Homo sapiens: one gene and its partner. The protein of the gene in region 1 purifies or fractionates together with the protein of each later gene. This does not show direct contact. Each region holds a gene or a part of one and is shown in the gene's direction. Other genes may lie near its edges.

The links.
Region 2: the proteins of PGAP2 (region 1) and PPME1 purify together in Homo sapiens (affinity purification with mass spectrometry; one large-scale study listed by BioGRID and IntAct). This does not show direct contact.

Annotation. Positions count from the first base shown.
Region 1 is NC_000011.10:3,818,407-3,822,226, forward strand, and holds part of PGAP2 (acyltransferase PGAP2), read left to right. Parts: intron 1-3,820.
Region 2 is NC_000011.10:74,244,128-74,247,947, forward strand, and holds part of PPME1 (protein phosphatase methylesterase 1), read left to right. Parts: exon of another isoform or gene 1-1,368; intron 1,369-1,906; coding exon of another isoform or gene 1,907-1,948; coding exon 1,949-2,078; intron 2,079-2,951; coding exon 2,952-2,996; intron 2,997-3,820. UniProt on the Homo sapiens protein: Demethylates proteins that have been reversibly carboxymethylated. Demethylates PPP2CB (in vitro) and PPP2CA. Binding to PPP2CA displaces the manganese ion and inactivates the enzyme.

The DNA of each region.
Region 1 (3,820 bases):
TGGGCAGGAGAGATCATGAGAGGAAGGAGGCAGATTGGAAAGGAAGCCAGGACTGAGGAGGTAAAATGAGGCCAGAAGATGGGAGATGTAACAAGTGGCTTTGGCCCAGACTCGGGGACTGACCTTGGAGGATCCATCCTCAGCTCTGATCTGGATCCTCAAGCTTTGTTTCTCCTACTGGCAGCCCCAGGCCCCACCACCTGTATCCACTCAGGGATCTGCCAGCCAGAAACCTGGATGGACTTCTGTCTCCCACAATCAGTCCACTAGGCCTTTCCTGGGGGCCCAGGGATAAAGGTTCTGTTGTGCTAGGGGCATGGAATTAGATATGGACTTGCCCTTAACATCTCAATGTTACAAGAATCAATCCTTAGACACAGACTGTCACAACACAGTGGTCTGGGGTTCCTATTATGATTAAAAAAAGAGTACAGTGACTGTGGGGCTCAGAGGAGGCACTTCACGCAGCTTGGACATTGGGGATCACTTTCTTCTTGGAGGAGGGGACATTGTTGCTCTGTGGTAAAGAAGGCTCTTTGTGAATGCCAGGCCGGCAACTTTTGATATTATCCAGAGGGCAATTTTTATCAAGAGCTTTGGAAAGATTTTAGGCAGGAAAGGGACATGATCAGATTTGTGCTTTACATATTTATTTATTTAGAGACAGGATCTCACTCTGTCTCCCAGGCGGGAGTACAGTGACCTGATCTTGGCTCATTGCAGCCTTGACCTCCTGGGCTCAGGTGATTCCTCGCCTCAGCCTCAGCCTTGGGTAGCTGGGACTACAGGTGCATGCCACCATGCCTGGCTAATTCTTATATTTTTTTTGTAGAGATGGGGTTTTGCCATGTTGTGTAGGCTGGAGATTTGTGCTTCAGAAGACCACTCTAGCTTCTGAGTGGAGAACAGCTTTAAGGTCAGGGGCAAGAGTAGGGTATAAGGAGGCTGGTGCAGTAGCTCATGCTCCTGGGGGAACCAGAGCCAAGATGCGGACTGTGAGCGTAGAGAGGAGGGATGGAGTCTAGAGAGGTGTAGAAAGTGGGATTGACAGCAAATGGAGTTTTTGTGCAGTTGGCATGGGGCGGGGGACAGTACGGTAGCTAGAGAAGGCATCTATAATGTGGGGGGACTTTTACCTGAGGCCAAAGGAATGAATCTTATGGTGAAATCTGAGGTGCCGTGCAAGGGGATTTTGGGGAACCCTGCTTTATACCATATGAGTTTCTGATCTACTGTCCTATCAGAAAGGGCTTATCCTCCCGTCTCTCAGTACTCTTAGCTCTGGGCACATGGGGAAGTTTGGGGTGAGCTGTGTACCCAGTTTCTCATAGCTCCTGATGTTGCTTGTTGCTGGTGCAGTCGATGAGTGGGGAACTTGTGTGCTGGAATGGGGCTGGCGGTAGGAGTACATGTACCTGATTGTGTGTATGTGTCTGTGTGTATATGTGCGTGTGTGTGTACATGATGGAAGAGACAGTCCCTGCTCTTAGAATCCCACCCCCATCCCTAATCTGAGAGAAGCTCATGAAGACAGGACCAGCAGCCACAATGCCCTAACTCTCTCTTCCTCCTGAGGCCTTCCCCAAACTCTGTATCATTTCTCCCCAGTACCTGTTCCCAACAGTGGTCAGGGTTCAGGGCCCTTGAATCCTTTAGGCTCTCCCAGTCAAGCTTTAGATGGTGGTCCTGTTTTCCTTAAAGTAGCTGAGACTGGGGAGTAGTTTTCAGATTGAATATTCCAGGAAGCAGAGGCAATGCTCTGACTAACTCAACTCAGAGTAACAGCAAGGCAGAAAAATCAAGTAAGGAGACTTGGAGGTTCCTGCGTCTCTCCCATAAGCAGACCTTCCCATGCTCTGTGGCCATGTAGCTCACAGCGTTTTTGCATTCTTTACAGGAAATTTTGTCTTCTGAAAGCCATCACTTATTGTACTTAACTGCATGCCAGATACTGCAGATGTTTTATACACGTTATATTTAGAATTCATATGGCTTGGCATGTTGGCTCACGCCTGTAATCCCAGCACTTTGGCAGGTGAATCACTTAAGGTCAGGAGTTCAAGACCAGCCTGGCCAACATGGTGAAACCCCATCTCTACTAAAAATACAAAAATTAGAGGCCAGGCGTCTGTAATCCCAGCTACTCGGGAGACTGAGGCAGGAGAATTGCTTGAACCTGGGAGGTGGAGTTTGCAATGAGTTGAGACCGCACCATTGCACTCCAGCCTAGGCAACAAGAGTGAAACTCCATCTCAAAAAAAAAAAGAAAAATTAGCTGCGTGTGGTGGCACCTCTAGTCCCAGCTACTCAGCAGGCTGAAGCACGAGAATCACTTGAACCTGGGAGGCGGAGGTTGCAATGAGCCAAGATTATGCCACTGTACTCCAGCCTGGGTGACAGAGCGAGACCCTGTCTCAAATAAATAAATAAATAAAGAGAATTCATAAACACCCTGCAAGGTAGGTGGTGTTATACCCATTTTACCAATGAGGAAATTGGAGCTCAGAGAGGTGAAGTGACTTGCTCAAGGTCACCCAGCTAATAAAGGCAGAGCTGGGATGCAGACTCAGCTTTGTGCAGTTCCTGAGCCTCTATGCTGCCCCTTCACATTACTCAGAGTGCATGTCTGAGCCTGGTCTCAAGCTATGATATCTCAAGCTATGGTATCTCAAGCTATGGCTTTGAGACCAGCATCTTCTCTCCCAGAGCTCTACATTTAGCTTCCTCTGACAGTGCAGAAGGGAATCCATCTCCTTTTTTGTGGAGGCTGTGAAGCCCCATGGCTAGTCTTGCCCCAGGCCTACCTGTGGGCTGCCCTATGAGCCGCCTGCAGCATTGCTCACCTTCTCAGCAGTCTGGCATCTCATTGAAAGAAAGGAATGATGGTCCTTAAGAACTCCACTTCCGAAGACTGTCCCTCCATAGTTAGAGCAAATTCATTCCCTTGCTGGGTTGCTGGGCTCTGGCACTGCGCTGGCCCTCGTTGGAGGTCTGCAGAAGTGCACAGAAAGTGTGGGCAATGGACTGGCCATTTCCACAGTTTTGGAAACTTTTAAAAATCCATATTCTTGCTGGGGGTGGTGGCTCACGCCTGTAATCCCAGCACTTTGGGAGGCCGAGGCAGGCAGATCACCAGAGGTCAGGAGTTCTGAGACGAGCCTGCCCAACATGGTGAAACCCCATCTCTACTAAAAATACAAAATTAGCTGGGCGTGGCAGCAGGCGCCTGTAATCCCAGTTACTTGGGAGGCTGAGGCAGGAGAATTGCTTGACCGCAGGAAGCGGAGGTTGCAGTGAGCCAAAATTGCGCCACTGCACTCCAACCTGAGCAACACAGCGAGACTCCATCTCAAAAAAAAAAAAATGCATATTCTGGCTTGGCGTGGTGGCTTATGCCTGTAATCCCAGCAGTTTGAGAGGCCGAGGGGGGTGGATTGTTTGAGTCCAGGAGTTTTAGACCAGCCTGGGCAACATGGCAAAACCCTGTTGCTACTAAAAAAAAAAAAAAATCCAAAAAATTAGCCAGGCATGGTGGTGGCTACTTGGGAGGCTAAGGTGGGAGAATCACCTGAGCCCAGAAAGTAGAGGCTGCAGTGAGCCGAGATCGGGCTATGGCACTCCAGCCTGGGCAACCGAAGTGAGACCCTGTCTCCAAAAACAAAAGCAAAAACAAAACGGCCGGGCGCAGTGGCTCACGTCTGTAATTCCAGCACTTTGGGAGGCCGAGGTGGGCGGATCACGAGGTCAGGAGATTGAGACCATCCTGGCTAACACGGTGAAACCCCGTCTCTACTAAAAATACAAAAAATTAGCCGGGCGT
Region 2 (3,820 bases), about 70 Mb from region 1:
AATTATATATGTATATACCACATTTCGTTTATTCATTCATCCATCAGTGGCCATTTGAGTTGCTTCCACCTCTTGGCTGTTATCCATAGTGCTGCTATGAACATGGGTTTGCAGATCCCTCTTTGAGATTCTGTTTTCAATTCTTTGGATATGTACCCAGAAGTGGGATTCCTGGATCATACAGTAGTTCTGTTTTTAATATTTTGAGGAACTGCCTTGATGTTTTTCTTATTGGTTGAACTATTTTACAACTCAGTACACAAGGGTTCCTTCCGAATTCTCCACATCCTCACCAACACTTATTTTTCTCTTTTTTGATAGTAGTCATCCTAATGGGGGTGAGGTGGTATCTCATTGTGGTGTTGCTGTGCATTTATTTATTGATTAGTGATGTTAAGCATCGTTTCATATGCTTATTGGCCACTTCTGTATCACCTCTAGAGAAATGTCTATTCAAGCCCTTTGACCATTTTTTAATCAGGTTACTCGATGTTTTTAGTTGCTGAATTGTAGGAGTCCTTTATATATTCTGAATATTAATCCATTATAAGATATATGATTTGCAAAGATTTTCTCCCATTCCATACACATAGTACCATTTGTCTATTTTTGCTTTTGTTCACTGCTTTTTGGTGTCATATCCAAGAAATCATTACCAAGTCTACTGTCCAGCTTTTCCTCCATGTTTTCTTCTAGGAGTTTTATAGTCTTAGTCTTACTAGGTCTTTAATCCATTTGAGTTAATTTTTGGATATGGGATAAGGCCCCAGCTTCACTTTGGAATATGCATATCTGTTTGGTTATCCCAGTACTGTTTGTTGAAGAGACTGTTCTTTCCCCATTGAGTGGTCTTGGCAGTCTTGTCAAAAATCATTTGACTATTTATGTGAAGGTTTATTTTTGGGCTCTCTATTCTATTCCACTGGTCTATTTGTCTTTACGGCAGTACTAAGCTGTTTCAATTACTGCAGCTTTGTAATTGGGGAGTGTGAGTTCTCCAATTTTGTTCTTCTTCAAAATTGTTTTGGCTAGTCAGTGTCTATGAGATTCCATATGAATTTTAAGGTGATTTTTTTTATTTCCTAAAAAAAAAAGCCATGGGAATTTTGATAGAGATTATATTGAATCTGTGGATTACTTTGGGTAGTATGGACATCTTAAGCATCCAGTGATCTTTAAGATAATATGTTACTATCTCATGTTCACTTTTAGATTTTCATATTGTGGTTGATTCAGTATATTTATTTCAATTATAATGTTTCAAATATTTCAATGGTACAGAAAAATATAGAGAATTATTTATTTTTTCAGCCAATATTTGATTGCATACTCTGTGCTTATCTACAATAAAGATTTAATAAATGTTGACATTTTGTCATATTTGTCTCATATTTCCTTTCAAAATTACTATTGCAGGAACATTATATCATTATCATAAAATATAAGAAAAAATGCTCTACTGACAAATCAACCTATTTTCAGTTTTCCTTTTTAGTACTTTACTATACCACATTTTTCCAGTAGTAATCCTAACTTAGATGACATGTTGTAATCTGTTTCTTGCTTATATTATAAGCATTTTTTCATACTGCAGTATGTTCTTTGTAGTTATTCTTTTGATGAAACATCCTTTTGCCAACCAAGTATAAGAAAGGCTTAATCTTGGCACTACCACTTACTAGCTTTGTGATCTTAAGAAAGTTTCCTAAATTCACAGAAACTAATAGCAATAAAAAGTAAACTTGTAATTATCTTAAAATGAATATTAACAGTGACCCATACAACAAGACTGTTGGAAGGATTGAATGTATATTAAAATGTCTAGGACTTAGTAGGTCCTTAATAAGTGCTAGTTTCCTTCCCTTTCCTTTTCCCAGGGATCTAGTTTTTAATCCTGTTCCTCCAGGGGTTGCCCTCGGAGACTCAGAACTTGCTCTTATTCCTCCAGACCAAGAAAGACCATCCATACACCTGGAGAATTGAACTGGCAAAAACAGAAAAATACTGGGACGGCTGGTTCCGAGGCTTATCCAATCTCTTTCTTAGTTGTCCCATTCCTAAATTGCTGCTCTTGGCTGGTAAGTGTATATGTGCATATATTAGTCAGCTCAGGCTGCCATAACCAAATATCATAGACTGAGTGGCTTAAACAACAGAAATTTATTTTCTCACAGTTCTGGAGGCTGGAAGTCTGAGATCAGGGTGCCAGCATGGTCAGGTTGTGGTGAGGGCTGTCTTCCTGGCTTGCCTTCTCTCTGTGCCCTCACATGGCCGAGAAAGAGTGAATGTGAGCTCTCTGGTGTCTCTTCTCTTAAGGATATTAATTAGGGACGTTCATCCTATCATGTCAGAGCTCTGCCCTCATGACCTGAGGTTACGTCCTTATAGGCCCTAGTTCCAAATACAGTCACATTGGGAATTGGGGCTTCAACATGAGTTTTAGGGGGACACAACTCAGTCCATAGCAGTGTTGGTATATTGTCATCTCAATATGACCTCATTAAAACTTCTCACCAAATGAGTAGTGACATCCAAAGTAGAGTACCTTCCTCATTCATCTATGCCTTTTCTCCTCCCCACACCCAGTCTCTAAACCTAACTAAGCATAAGCATTCATCTAAGCATAAAGGATGACCTAATTCTGGCCTGGCCTGTCTACTTGGTCAAGCTCAAGTCCTTCTTAGTCTAGAGCTAGATGCAGTGGTATAAGGATATTCTGATTATTATGAGAATTAAAATAGTAAAACCTTGTTTTCAGAACCAGTTTAACATAGTAATTATAGGGGAATCTCAACCTGAAAAGTTTTATCTGGTGGTGAGAGTATGCTCTGGGAGTTAGGATTGGTATAAACATGAATGGAGAATGTCATCATATTTAAAACTTTGTAACACTTTTTACTTAATACGTGAACAGCAAAATCTGTTTCACAATGAATTCTCTTGTTTTCTAGGTGTTGATAGATTGGATAAAGATCTGACCATTGGCCAGATGCAAGGTAAGTTATCAAGAAATTATACCCCTGGACCCTTTTCTGAAGAAAGGGTGATAGGGCAGTTAACATCCTGAGATAGTGAGGTATAACGGAGAAAGCATGAGCTTTAGAGTCCGACCCAAGTTGGACATCCGCCTCTACTCCTAACACACTATATGATTATGGGCAAGTATTTCCCTTTCCTGAGCTTTAATTTGTTTAAAAAAAAATCCATCCAAAAATGAAGATTATAATACTACTACCTATGTCTCAGTTATAAGAGTTAAAATGAGGCAATGTGTTTAAAAATTATAAAGTACTGTATAGGTGTATGATACTGTGAAAAGAGATATTCTGACTACTGATCAGTTTTTTGTTTGTGGGTTTTTTTTTTTTTTTTTTTTTTGAATTGGAGTCTCACTCTGTTGCCCAGGCTGGAGTGCGGTGGGACCAATCTCGGCTCACTGCAACCTCTACCTCCCAGGTTGAAGCAGTTCCGGGCCTCACCCACCCCAGTAGTGGGATTACAGGCATGCACCACCACGCCCAGCTAATTTTTGTATTTTTAGTAGAGATGGAGTTTCACCATTTTGGCCAGGCTGGTCTCAAGCTCCTGACCTCAAGTGATCCACCTGCCTTGGCCTCCCAGAGTGCGAAGATTATAGGTGTGAGCCACTGCAGCTGGCCAGTATTTTTCTTATTGTTAGAAGTTTTAGGAAAGGGAAAGGCTCAAGATAATCCAGATATAAAAAGGTATAAATACCTGTTTAGAAGACAGCATGGTAAGATGGTAAAAGTAAGGTCTCTGAAGTTCGGAAAACTGAGTTTTGAATACTGCTTTTCCAGTA